Regions from separate parts of the Homo sapiens genome. Here region 2 is linked to region 1. A link means that fine-mapping ties the variant in region 1 to the expression of a gene that starts in the linked region. Tissue or cell type: tibial nerve. Region 1 holds a variant in brackets; the other region holds the start of a gene. All regions are shown on one strand. Distances are from middle to middle.

Region 1 (8,080 bases):
TGGGGCTCTGGGCTGGGCGCAGGGCCCGCCATGGGTCTTGGGCACGTAGGCCGAGCCAGAGGTTGTCTCCCATCTGCTGAGGACCTCGTCGAAAGCCCAGATGCGAGAATCCTGCTTTGCAGTCGGAGGTAGAGGGTCCGCGACCGTGGACTGGAGAGAAGGCGCCGCACATCAGCTAGAAAGACTCAGGAGTCCCTATCACCCCCCACCCCAAACTCTGACCTCTTCCAGTCGGCCCCCAGCCCTTTCCTCTGCAGTCCCTGGCATCCAAATTCCCTGGCGCCTCCTCTCTCAGACCCAGGACTCCAGGACCCTCCTCCTTCAGAGAGGAGTCCAAGCTCCCAATCCCCTTTTCTCAGCCCCCATCTTTCTGGGTCCCCAGGCCCCGCAGGGCTTCAGCCTAGGGTCTGCCCACCTGCACCGTGGGCGGGGGGAAGGGTACGGGTGGGATAATGCCATGGGTAACGTAGCTGCTGGTGAGATGCCAGTTGGGCCAGGATTCAGGCATCTCGGTTGCAGAGATGAAAGACCACGGGGGGCCACAGCGCACAGCCAGGGTGCCACTGGCCATGGTTCCACCCCCTCCCTGTAGCCAAGCAGGAGCTGGTTTGTTGCTGTTGCCCCAGGTGACAGAACCCGCCCACCCCAATCCAGCCAATGAAAGGCCTGCAGGCACATGGATGGATGGAGTGATTAAGAGACCCAGAGACAGAGAGACAGGGACTCCAAGAGGGGCACAGAGAAACACGGAGTGGGGGATGGAGAGTCAGAAAGAGGCGGACAGAAGGGGATGGAGAAGTTCAGGATTTCAGAGACCCAGGGGGTGGGGGAGACAGAGACACAGAAAGAAGGACAGAGACCTGGGGGTGTCAGAGATACAGACAGAGACCCCTGCACTGCCCCCAGCACCTCAGGACATCCATGAGAAACACCCCCCTTTGCTCCAGGGTCCAGAACCTCCTGGCTGCTTCCTCCCTCTGCCAGGCCTGCCCACCTCGGGGTAACGATTTCCAGATGTCCCCGGGGCTCCCCAACCCTTCCCGCACGTGCTGAAGGAGTCAGCGCTGGTGTCAGCTGTCCTGCCTGCCTTTGATTTGGTTGAAAACTTCCACCTGGGTAGGCTGGGTGGGGAAAGAGAAAGGGATCTAGAGAGAAGTGCACCGGACCATAGCGAAAAAGATGGGCTTTGATGAGTGAGGAATAAATACAACAAGAAAGGGGAGAGACAGGGAGGAAGAAAGAGACCACGATGGAAAGGGAGCTATTAGTACTACCCAGAGGCGACAGACACTGGAAGTTAGAGACAGAGATGAAGGTGGCAAAAACGACCAAAGTCACAGATGGAAAACAAGGAGACGTAGAAACTGAGGCAGCCACGCCCCACCCTGCCCAGGGGCCTGGTCTGTATAGATGCGGGGAGAAGTTGCCTATGTCCTTTGCTCAAAGCTGGACCTGAGAGAGAGAGAGAGAGTTGGTGGGGCGATGGGTAACATGTGAAGGGCTATTGTGAAGGCCTGTGGTCTGTCCCTGGCTTCCCTTGTCACTTCTTCACTATAAACAGCTTTTGATCACCGGGCGCAGTGGCTCATGCCCGTAATCCCAGCACTTTGGGAGGCCGAGGCATGCGGATCACTTGAGGTCAGGAGTTTGAGACCAGCCCGGCCAACATGGCGAAACCCTGTCTCTACCAAAAAATACAAAAAGTAGCCGGGCGTGGTGGCGCACACCTGTAATCCCAACTAAGGCAGAAGAATCACTTCAACCCGGGAGGTGAAGGCTGCAGTGAGCTCAGATCACACCACTGCACTCCAGCCTGGGTGACAGAGCGAGACTCCATCTCAAAAAAAAAAAAAAAAAAAAAAAAAAAAAAAAAGCTTTTGGTCAAGGCCTCTGACTGCTCAACCCCCATTATCTCATCCTACCAGCCCATTCTGCAGACAAGGAAAACTGAGGCTACTTTCTGCAGCCATGCCCAGGATCCCACTTACCCCTCCTCCCCCATTCAGGCTTCTGGGGCCTTTCTGTTGGATTTTGCTGGCCCTACTCAACAGCTCTCAATGGACAGTGACCCCCTGATCCTAGCCAGGGGGCCGATGAGTTAGTCAGAAACTCATGCCCCACTCAAGCTGGACAAAATTTTTTTCTTTTTTTTGAAATGGAGTTTCGCTCTTTTTGCCAAGGCTGGAGTGCAATGGTACAGTCTTGGCTTACTGCAACCTCTGCCTCCTGAGTTCAAGCAATTCTCCTACCTCACCCTTCAGAGTAGCTTGGATTACAGGCATCCGCCACCACGACCAGCTAATTTCTTTATATAATTTTAGTAGAGTCGGGTTTTCACCATGTTGGCCAGGCTAGTCTCGAACTCCTGACCTCAGGTGATTCACCCACCTCGGCCTCCCAAAGTGCTGGGATTACAGGAATGAGCCATCGCACCTGGCCATCAAGCTGGAAAATTTTAAGGTCTGTTTCTTTCCCAATGTAGAGTAAAGGTTGGGACAGGGAAGAGGGCTAGAAACCTGACTTCAGCTCCCTGCCGAGGGCTGAACTCTCCAGCATCCTGATCACTTCTCATTCAACCTTGCTTGTACTCCTCTGTGATCGGTAGCTTATTACCTCAAAACAGAATATTCTAAGTCAACCTTTGCCCCCTCTTACCAAGTAAGATTTCCCATTTGAACCCCATCTCCCAGATACTTAAAGGCCTTCTGTGGGCCACGTTCTCAAGGTCCCCTGGCCATCTGCTTGCCTGTTCTAGTTTCTCTCCTCCTCCACCCACATCGTGAAATGTCCCCTCCCACTCCCCAGCAAGGTGGTGTCCTCTGAGACTGAGTAGTCAGCAACTTAACACCAAGGGCCACCAATGATCAAATCCATGAGAGTTGATCTGAGGAGTTATGTATTAGGGATAAGAAACAGTAAACACTCAGTAAATAGTGGCTATTATTATTATATCATCATCATTATTACCCTCAAGTTGCTCCAGGAGAACTCCTATTCAACCTCCAAAACCCCATGTGGTTTCACCCATCCTGCAGAGATTGAGCTCAAAATCAGAGAATTGTGATTTTGTGATTATTTGATGAGTTCCCAAACTGGGGTCCTTAGATCAGCTGGGCCATCCCTGAGGTCTCTCAGCATCCAGCTCTGTTATTTTCCTGGGCATGGGTCTCAGGCCCGGCCAGTCCGGCTGAGGAGTGTGCAGACGCAGGCAGTGTCAATTCGAATCCATCGCCAGCCCACACGGCCCTGGGCATCAGCGGTCAATGCCCGCACATAGGACTGCTTGGCCTTGCACTCAGATACCCAGTGCCTCCTGTCCACTCCCCGGCAGCCCCCTCCACCTGCCCCCGGGCCACCTTCCTCAGCGTTATCAGCCTTGCAGCGGGTTTCAAAGAAGTACTGGCGGAGGGGACTGCCGCCAGCTGCAGGCACCTCGCCCAACACCTCCACCTCGCGCCCACGCAAGTCCACAGCGGTCCGGCGGTCTGTCACCCAGCCACTGACTGCATCGCACACAGCCAGCTCACCCCGACGACTCGCTGGTGCAGTTTCGCTCACCCCACGCCGGCTGCGGTTGGCCGGGGCACCTGCTGACTCCCGAAAGGCCCCAGCCTCCAGCAGGAAGAGCAGAGGGGGCCCAGCAGGGGCACCCCTAGACAGGACTACTCGGGGGGAGAGAAGGTCCCACTCAGGGGCCAGAAAAGGGGGCAATGTTGAGGGTGGGGGTTGGGACTCAATTGGCACACTGGGGAGGAGGAAAAGGAGGAGGATGGGGAGGGAGCATGAGGGGAGAGGGAGCATCTCTCGGAGCACCTGGAGACAGAAAGAGGGAGGCTGGGATTAGAGAAGGGGGTAAAAACTTCAGTGGGGAAAGAAGTTGGGAACCCCAGGGGAGGCTTGCCTGCCAGGATTGTGGGGAAGCCCTTGTTCTAGAAGTTTGGGGGACCCTATATCTAGGGCTTGC[G/A]TAATGCGCAACTTGTAGATTAATAATAAATATTCAACTACTACAGGCCAGGCACTGTGCCCCACACCTCTAATCCCAGCACTCTGGGAGGCTGAGGCAGGTGGATGACTTGAGGTCAGGAGTTCCAGAGCAGCCTGGCCAACATGGTGAAACCTCATCTCTACCAAAAATACCAAAATTAACCGGGCATAGTGCTGCACGCCTGTAATCCCAGCTACTCAGTAGGCTGAGGCAGGAGAATCACTTGAACCCAGGAGGCCGAGGTTGCAGTGAGCAGAGAGTGCACCACTCCCCTGCCACCTGGGCGACAAGAGTGAGACTCTGTCTCAAAAGTAAAAATAAGGCCAGGCATGGTGGCTCACACCTGTAATCCCGGCACTTTGGGAGGCCGAGATGGGCGGCTCACCTGAGGTGAGGAGTTCCAGACCAGCTTGGTCAACATGGTGAAACCCCTTCTCTACTAAAAATACAGAATTACCCGGGTGTGGTGGCGCATGTCTGTAATCCCAGTTACTTGGGAGGCTGAGGCAGGGCAATCACTTGAACCCAGGAGGTGGAGGTTGTGGTGGGCTGAGATTGAACCATTGCACTCCAGCCTGGGCAACAAGAGCGAAACTCCGTCTTAAAAAACAATAATAATAATAAAATAAAAATAAAAATAATTCAACTACTATTACTTAACAGTAACAGATGTTGAAATACAGGCTCAGAGAAGTTAATGATTTGTGCCCGGTCACACAGCCAGCAAATGGCAGAGATGGGACTTCACCTCTGGGCAACTGCACTCTGCCGTCCTTCCTGTGCAACTCTGAGGAACCGACAGTCTTGCATCTTGGAGGATGTTCCAAACAATTTTTTTTTTTTGAGACAGAATCTCACTCTGTTGGCCAGGCTGGAGTACAGTGGCACAATCCTGGCTCACTGCAATGTCTGCCTCCTGGGTTCAAGTGATTCTCCTGCCTCAGCCTTCTGAGTAGGTGGGATTACAAGCACCTGCCACTGTGCCCAGCTAATTTTTGTATTTTTAATAGAGATGGGGTTTCACCATGTTGGCCAGACTGGTCTTGAACTCCCAACCTCAAGCAATAGTCGTGTCCTGGCCTCCCAAAGTGCTGGGATTACAAGCATAAGCCACCATGCCTGGTCCCAAACAAAATTTTTTTTTTTTTTTTTTTGAGATGGAATCTCCCTCTGTCGCCCAGGCTGGAGTGCAGTGGCACGATCTTGGCTCACTGCAAGCTCCGCCTCCCAAGTTCATGGCATTCTCCTGCCTCAGCCTCCTGAGTAGCTGGGACTACAGACTCAAGCCACCACGCCTGGCCACATTCCACAATTTAGAGAAAGGTCACAACCTGGAATCCTAGGGAGACCCCAGTTCACCTCAAAACTGCCACTAAGGAGGTAAAACGCTGCCCCTCTGAGGCAGGCTTCAGTTTCCCTGTGTGTGAAATTGACCTGGCGCTGGGAGAGGCTGGTGGAGGCGCGGATTTTGCAGTTTCCCTACAACATTCTGGAAGCCTGTGGTTCTGGGAAAGGGTGGCGTGGAGAAGACTGGGAAACAGTCAGTAGTTACCAGACCTGTCAGCACCTCCTCCGCCTCGGAGCTCTGGGGCTGGGAGTCCCCAGGCTTCGGGGGGCCCCTGTGGAGGACACAGGTGGCCCCCTCCTTCCTGACATCTCAGGAGAGGGAGGGGGCAACCACCTAGGGGAAGAAAAGAATAGACAGGTTATAGAGGCAGGTGGGGAAGGGGCCAAATCCCTGAACAACCCCTTCCCAGAGTTCCTCTTCAAGTGCAGGGTACCCAAGAGTCAAGGCCCCGCCCCCTTTCCAGAGGCCCCTTTTCTACCCAGGTGATGGCTCCTGGCTGGGATGGGAAGCAGATGGAGGGAGGGGAAGGGAGAATAGGGGAAGGGAGAGGCAGTGGATGAAGGAGGCTGGAAGAGATTACATCCCCCTCGGCCCATTCATCTCCCAGATGGGGCGGAACTGGCCTGGACACCCGGGTCCCTGAGGGCCCACACTCAAGAAGCCCTGGTTCCCCAAGCTGCTTCCTGGAATGTTCCCTCCTCACAGGACAGGCCAGGGCCCGCCCAAGACTTCTGCACATACCTGGAGTGGCTGCCTGCCCTGGCTCCTCGGTACAGGAAAGGGGAAGGGTGGAGAGTGAAAGGAGCCCAGGCTGACCCAACCAGGACCGCCTTCTCCCTCAGACCGAGTAGTGCAGACCCCAGGGCCTCCACCTTCAGACCCAGGAGTTCAGATCCCCAGCGCCCTCCTCCCTCAGACCCAGGAGTAGTCCAGGCCCCCAGCGCCCTCCTCTCTCAGACCCAGAAGTCCAGGCCCCCAGCACCCTTCTCCCTCAGACCCAGGAGGAGTCCAGGCCCAGGCCCCCAGCACCCTTCTCCCTCAGACCCTGGAGTCCAGGTCCCCAGCGCCCTCCTCCTTCAGACCCAGGAGTCCATGCCCCCAGCGCCCTTCTCCCTCAGACCCAGGAATCCAGGCCCCCAGTGCCCTCCTCTCTCAGACCCAGGAGTTCTGGAATTCAGGCCCCTCCTTCTCGGATACTAAGAAATGCAGACTCCGGGTTCCTCATCCTCCAGATTTGGGTTGGGGGTTCCGGACTCCGAGACCCCTCAGGGGAAACCGGCTGCATATCTGGGACACTTCCCTCTTGCCTCAGTTTCCTCCGCCAAGCCCCGCCCCGGTCGGCCCCGCCCCCGTCCCTCCCCACCCGAGGGCAGGGCGACCAGGACGCCGGAATCCCGAGGGAGGAGGAGTGGAGATCTTACCTGGGGCGCCCTCTTCGGCTCCCGCGGCTGCCCTCCGCCCGGCAGCAGCTCCTCCTCCTGCTCGCTGGCTGCAGGGACGCTCGCTGGCCCGCCGGGTGCTAGCTGCTCACGCTCCGCAGGGCCCGGGTCGGGGGCGGGGGCGGGGCGGCGCCGGGCGGCAGAGGAGGGGCCGGGGGATCCTGCCTTGCACTCGCGTGCCGGGACCTTGGAAGCCAGGCCTGGCTCGTTCAACGCGGCCGCCTTGGTCACAGGAGTCCCAGTTTCCAGCTGCCTCCTCCTTTGGACCTAGCAGTCCAGGCCCCCAGCCCCTCCTCCCTTCAGACCCAGGAGTCCAGGCATCCGGCCCCTCCTCCCTCAGACCCAGGACTTGCGACCCCAGCCACCTCTCCCCCCAGCCCCAGGCGCCTGAGTACTAAGCCCACAGTTCCCCCCACCACCTCCCAACCCCGCCCCGTCTCAGACTCAGGAGTCCAGCCCCCAGCCTCCTCCTCCATTAGCCCCAGGAGTCTGGGCCTGAGATTCCTTTGCCGTCTTTTGCCAATTGCGTGTCAATCCCGGGGCAGATTCCCACCCTCTGCTCTCCTCCCCACTTCCCAGGAGCTCCACGCCAGACATTAACCAGCTGGGCTTGGGCAGTGATAAGGCCCCAGGCCCGGGGAGACAGTGGATGTGGGGGCTCCCGCATACTCCTCTCCCCTGGAATTTCCTGGCTGGGGACCGGGGAGAAGGTCTTGTCCTGAGCTCAGATAAGAGACGTGCAAGGTATCATAGGACCAGAGATAGACAGATGTGTCTTAAGAACAATCAGCTACCTTGAGAAATGGTGCGCGGTGACATGAAGGGAGAGATAGGGAGAAGACATGGAAAAGTGGGGAGAGACCAAAAGAAAGAGGGGGACCGAGACTAGAGAGAGTGGGGGAGGGCAGGAGCCCAGAGAGAAGACAGAGGCCCAGAGAGCGTGAGGGCAGACCCCCCCACCCCCCCGAGAAGGGGACAGAGCCCCTGAGAGACCCTGAGAAAGACAGGGATGGGACCGGAGCCGGAGTGTCTCAGGACAGTCATGAGGGCAGCGGGGCTCCTCACCCCACCACACCTCTACCCTGAGACTCCGCTCCCCTCCGCCTGCGCTATTTTCAGAAGGAAAACTGACACCTGCCTCGAGGGTCATCCCACACCCCCTCAGCCTAAATATAGCATGGCAAGGTGGCAGGAGGGTGTCCCCGGTTAGGGTGTTTCCTGCTCCTCACCATCCCAGCCAAGGCAACACACAAGGCCGCTCCAGTTATTTATTGGGGGTGGGGGGAAGGGCCACTTCCCAGGCTTTGG
Region 2 (5,000 bases), 620 kb after region 1:
GCTCAAGCGATTCTCCTGCCTCAGCCTCCCAAGTAGCTGGGATTACAGGCGTGTGCCACCAGTCCTGGCTAATTTTTTTATTTTTATTTTTATTTATTTTATTATTTTTTGAGATGGAGTCTCGCTGTGTCGCCTAGGCTGGAGTGCAGTGGCACCATCTCAGCTCACTGCAACCTCTGCCTCCCGGGTTCACGTGATTCTCCTGCCTCAGCCTCTGGAGCAGCTGGGACTACAGGCGCCCACCACCACACCCGGCTAATTTTTGTTTTTTTAGTAGAGACGGGGGTTTCACCATATTGGCTAGGCTGGTCTCGAACTCCTGAGCTTGTGATCCGCCCACCTCAGCCTTCCAAAATGCTGGGATTACAGGCGTGAGTCACCGCGCCCGGCCAAATTTTTTTTTTTTTTTTTTTTGAGACAAGAGTCTCGCTCTGTCACCCAGGCTGGAGTGCAGTGGCGCGATCTCAGCTCACTGCAAGCTCCGCCTCCCGGGTTCACGCCATCCTCCTGCCTAAGCCTCCACGCCCGGCTAATTTTTTGTATTTTTAGTAGAGACGGGGGTTTCACCATGTTAGCCAGGATGGTCTCGACCTCCTGACCTTGTGATCCGCCCGCCTCGGTCTCCCAAAATGCTGGGATTACAGGCGTGAGCCACCGCGCCCGGCCGCCTGGCGTAATTTTTGTATTTTTAATAGAAATGGGGGTTTCACCATGTTGCCCAGACTGGTCTCGAACTCCTGATGTCAAGTGATCCGCCTGCCTCCGCCTCCTAAAGTGCTGGAATTACACCCGTGAGCCATCGCGCCCGAACCCTATTGTAAATTTTAAGTCTCAGGCGTTTGCCAGCGGCACGCCAGAGAGTATAGCCTGCGCGGAGGCCCAGAAACCAAAGAGCGAGCTCATTCCGGGATTGGAGAGAAGTGTGAGCAGAGGGAAGTAGAGGGATCGGGGAGAGGAGGGGCAGGACCCACGCATTCGGCCCTTTGCATTCAGCTTCATTCAACTAGGAACTTTTTCTGCAAATCAAGGAAAGCTTCCCGGAGGAAGTGGTGCCTAAGCTGTGCTCTGATTCACGTTTAGAAGCTGACCAGACAAAGAGAGGTGGGCGTTCCTGGCAGGGGGAGGGACTTGGCAAAAACCAAGTGGCTTGAGAGGGGTTGATGGTTTTAAAAAACTTGGAATGATTATGTCAAGGGCTAGGGATTTAATGTGTTGACGACGGACTCCTATTCCTCACTTGCTTCGGGACCCCAGCTATGCCCTTCCTCTCTCTGGGCCTCTCACCGATTCCGTTTTTCCCCCAGGTAATGAGCACAAGCTCCCTTTTTCCTCCAGACTCCCCCCGGGTTGGGAGGATCCACCGAGTGGACGAGGAGTGATAATTCCTTTGAGCCAATCGTTGGTGCCTGAAGCCCCGCCTTCTTCCCTACCCGTGGGCCAATTGCCGTGTTCTCCTTGAGGCCGGCCGCTTGGCGAGGGTGGGCCAAAGGCTGCGTGACGTCGCTTCCGGATAAACCAATGGCAGCGATTAGGAGGCGGGTCGTTTTGGTGATGGACAGGTGTTTCAAGACGCCCCTTTAGCGCGGGGCTCCCCGGGAAGCTTTGAGGCGGTGCTGGGTGTAAAGGGGAGGGCATTCCTGGTGGATTTTGCCCAATCACCAGTCGCGCTTCTTGCAATAGACGGGCAGTTTTCCCCATCCCGGGTCGACTTGAGGGGGCGGGATTCTGGACGCCAGAGTTGGCAAACCCCTGACCTATGATGGACGTATTCTCTAGCCAATTACTAGACGGTATTCTCAGACGGGCCGCCTCCATTGCCAATGAAATCTTCCAGCGGGGTCGCGGTAGGCGGGCCGTGGACCCTCTGGTATAAGGCGGTCCCGGGGGAGTGAGGAGAAAGGGGGGGTCTTGGCGGCCGGAGGAGGAGTAGGTGCGGGTGAAGATGGCGGCAGCCGAGGCCGCGAACTGCATCATGGAGGTGAGCGCTTGGAGCGCCGCCGTGGGCGGGAGGCGGCTTTGGGTCGGTGTTTCACGCCTCTGTGGTGGGGAAAGGGCTCTAAGTTGGCGATATGGGGTTGGAGGTCCCCCGCCGCACACGGGGGCGCCGCACGTTCCACATCCGGGGATATCGTTTGAGGTGACGGCTCCCTAGCTTCCAAGGGCCTTCGGCATCCGGCCTAGCGGAGGGTCTTATCCCCCCTCCCACGTGGAGGAGGGCTGGGGGCGCTTCCGGCCAGGCCCCCACGTGGCCGCTGCGCGGTGGGTGGGGAGGGGGTGTGCCGAGTCCAGTGGCCCGGCGGGCTCCACGTGCGGGACAAAGGCCCCGCCCCCGGCCGGGGAGGGGCGCCCAGGGGGGCGGGGAGGGGGTCCGACCCTCCTGACGCCCCCAGCCCTCCTCCCCGGGGACCTGGGCACACGCCGTGGGGTGTGATCGACCTGGGGCCCTCCACGATGTGGGGAGTCTCTTGGGAGGAGCAGTGCTTCTCAGCCCTTTACCAACCTCCTTCCGAGCTCCGGGGGCATCTGTTGGGATATCGGACCCGGTTTTGTGCGTTCTGGGTTAGGGACTGGAGGAAAACCAAGAATGGGGTCCCCCGCCGACCCCGTTTCCCCTCCCAGAATTCTCCCCCTCGCCCAGGGCTTTAGGAGTTGGGGGATGGGGCATGCCCCTGTGACCTCCCTCTGGGTGGTGGTGGGGCATCTAGATAGAGATTTTCCCATTAATAGGCGCCGTGCACCCCCTTGTGGCCATTTCTGGGTGTGTGGGAGGGACATCTTTTTCATGGGGCGTGTCCTGAAGCCCACCTCCCCTCGGATTTCTTCCTGGCGGGCGGAGGGAGGAGGGTATGTCCGCTGGGAAGGAGTTGTGGGAAATATGTAGGCTGAGAGCTTTACCCTACTGGAGCCGTTTATCTCCCCCGGGTCTTTGTGAGGGTGCGAGATGACCTCCTTCTTCCTGAAGCCCTGTGCAGGGTCCTGAGCCCTGGGGTCCTGAGAGTGGGTGCCTGAAATGGTTTCGAGTGAGGTTTGGTTCTCGTGCAGCCATGTGGGGGAGGTTTCAGTCTTGCGTTTCAAGCCCTCTGGGGCTGGGGTTGTCTGGCGGTAGTTTTCAGTGGTATTGAGAAATAGGCCCGAGTGGGAAACCCCCTCAGCACCTTTCTTCTTATAGGCATCCCCGCTAGCTTGGGAGAGCTGGAGGGAGGGTGCTTGGAGCCTAGTAGGTCATGGCCTGTGACGTGGCCCTTCTTGGAGACTTGGATAGTGGTCACATCTGGAAGAGATGTAATCTGATGGGGCCTCTGTCCTTCCACCCCTTACCTATGGCATTGGCTGGAGGGGCAGGTCAGCTCTCAGCTGTCAGGATGCAGCTCCCAGGGGTCACTGTAATGACTTCCCACCCTCTTGGCTGTCTCCTGCACCTGGGGCTCTATGGATGGAGGAAATAACTTTCCCAGAGGTGGCCTCAGGCTTGGCCGCACCTGGAAGTCTTCAGGGCCTGGGATGGGTGTCTGAATGGGGGCGATGGCCTGACTCCCCAAGCCACTTTTTTTTTTTTTTTTTTTGAGACGGAGTCTTACTCTGTCACCCAGGCTGGAGTGCAATGGCTTGATCTCGGCTCATTGCAACCTCCGCCTCCCGGGTTCAAGCGATTCTCCTGCTTCAGCCTCCTGAGTAGCTGGGATTACAGGCACCCGCCACCAGGCCCAGCTAATTTTTGTATTTTTAGTAGAGATAGGGTTTCACCATGTTGGTCAGGCTGGTCTCAAACTCCTGACCTCAGGTGACCCACCTGCCTCGGCCTCCCAAAGTGCCGGGATTGCAGGTGTGAGCCACCGTGCCCCCAAGCCACTTTCTGGAGTCCTCTCATTCTTAGAGGGTCCAGGAGCTGCCCATCTTCCCTGGGACCCTACCTTCGTGGGCAGAGGGTCATAAGGGAGGGGGTTGGTTCCAGCTGGTTTTGTTTGGGGCTCCTGAGTCCAAGGCAGGAGCTGGGGTCTGGGGTACTAGCTCTGGGGAAGTACCCGTGTGCCACACCTCTATTCTGGAATCCTCTCAGACATGAGACTGGTTTGCAGAGGTGGCAGATGCCCTGTGGGCATATCCTGCCAGCCCCGCTCCCTTCTGCTATTCATGGCACCCTAGGATAGGGGTGTGTGTGTCAGGAAGTGTCACCTAATCTGGAGGAGATTAGGTGATGAGAGGGAGCGACAGCTGGCGGTGGTGGGTGCCAATTCCCCTGGCCTGGATGGGGGAGGTGTGTGGTCAGCTGCCTGGCCAGAGAGGGGCAGCGTGGGGGTGGGCCACCATCTCTCCAGCCACAGCTGGGATAGGAGACCCCCCTTTCTTCTCCCCTCACTTTTCCCACCCTTTCTTAAACACCCCACCTCATTACTTGCCCCCTTCGCCACCACTCCCCACCAAGAAGGAGAATTGCTGGAAACCCACCCCCCGGCCAGAGCCCAGGTTCCGCCACCCAGCCCTCCCACAGCCACTCCCAGTAGCTAATCCTTTTTCCCTGTTACTCTCTCCTAGAATTTTGTAGCCACCTTGGCTAATGGGATGAGCCTCCAGCCGCCTCTTGAAGAAGTAAATATCCTTTTGTGAGACCCCTCCCCACCCTGACCTCCACATCAATATATCTTGCCACACATCTGGCCCTTTCTTGAGGTCTAACCATACCCCTCTTGCTTCAAACCAGTTTACCCCAGGCCCCCAGACACTTAGTAGCAACCCCTCCAGGTTCACAGCCCCCGCTGGCCTCCCCCAGTATCGCCGCTACTTCCTTAACTCCACCTCCAACCCCCCTTTGCCCTTCCCTGTGTCTGCCCCCATTTTCCTTCCCCTCCCCTCCCCAGCTGTGGGCTGAGCTAGAGACGGGGTCAGAGAGACTGGAGAGATGGTAGGCGTGGCTGAGGTATCGGGGTGCTCCCCTGGATGGTGCTCTGGGGGGGTCCTGGAAGTGGAAAATGGGGTTGTTAGGTTTTGGGGTTCCTGGGGGG

Evidence for each region. PIP is the estimated chance that this variant, and not a neighbour inherited with it, causes the effect.
Region 2: PRMT1 starts here. The variant in region 1 is fine-mapped to the expression of PRMT1 in tibial nerve (GTEx, PIP above 0.99).

Annotation. Positions count from the first base shown.
Region 1 is chr19:49,058,197-49,066,276 of GRCh38, forward strand. NTF4 (neurotrophin 4) reads right to left here and starts at 6,622. Exons shown (of 2, transcript NM_006179.5): 1 at 5,543-6,622; 2 at 2,932-3,813. The coding sequence starts at 3,801. The coding sequence ends at 3,169. It also overlaps the pseudogene LOC124904739. The variant G/A (reference allele first, on the strand shown) is at 3,965.
Region 2 is chr19:49,675,339-49,680,338 of GRCh38, forward strand. It overlaps PRMT1 (protein arginine methyltransferase 1), which reads left to right and starts at 1,933. Exons shown (of 11, transcript NM_001536.6): 1 at 1,933-1,978; 2 at 4,534-4,587. The coding sequence starts at 1,943. RefSeq lists enhancers at 1,418-1,567, 1,572-2,303 and a silencer at 2,148-2,427.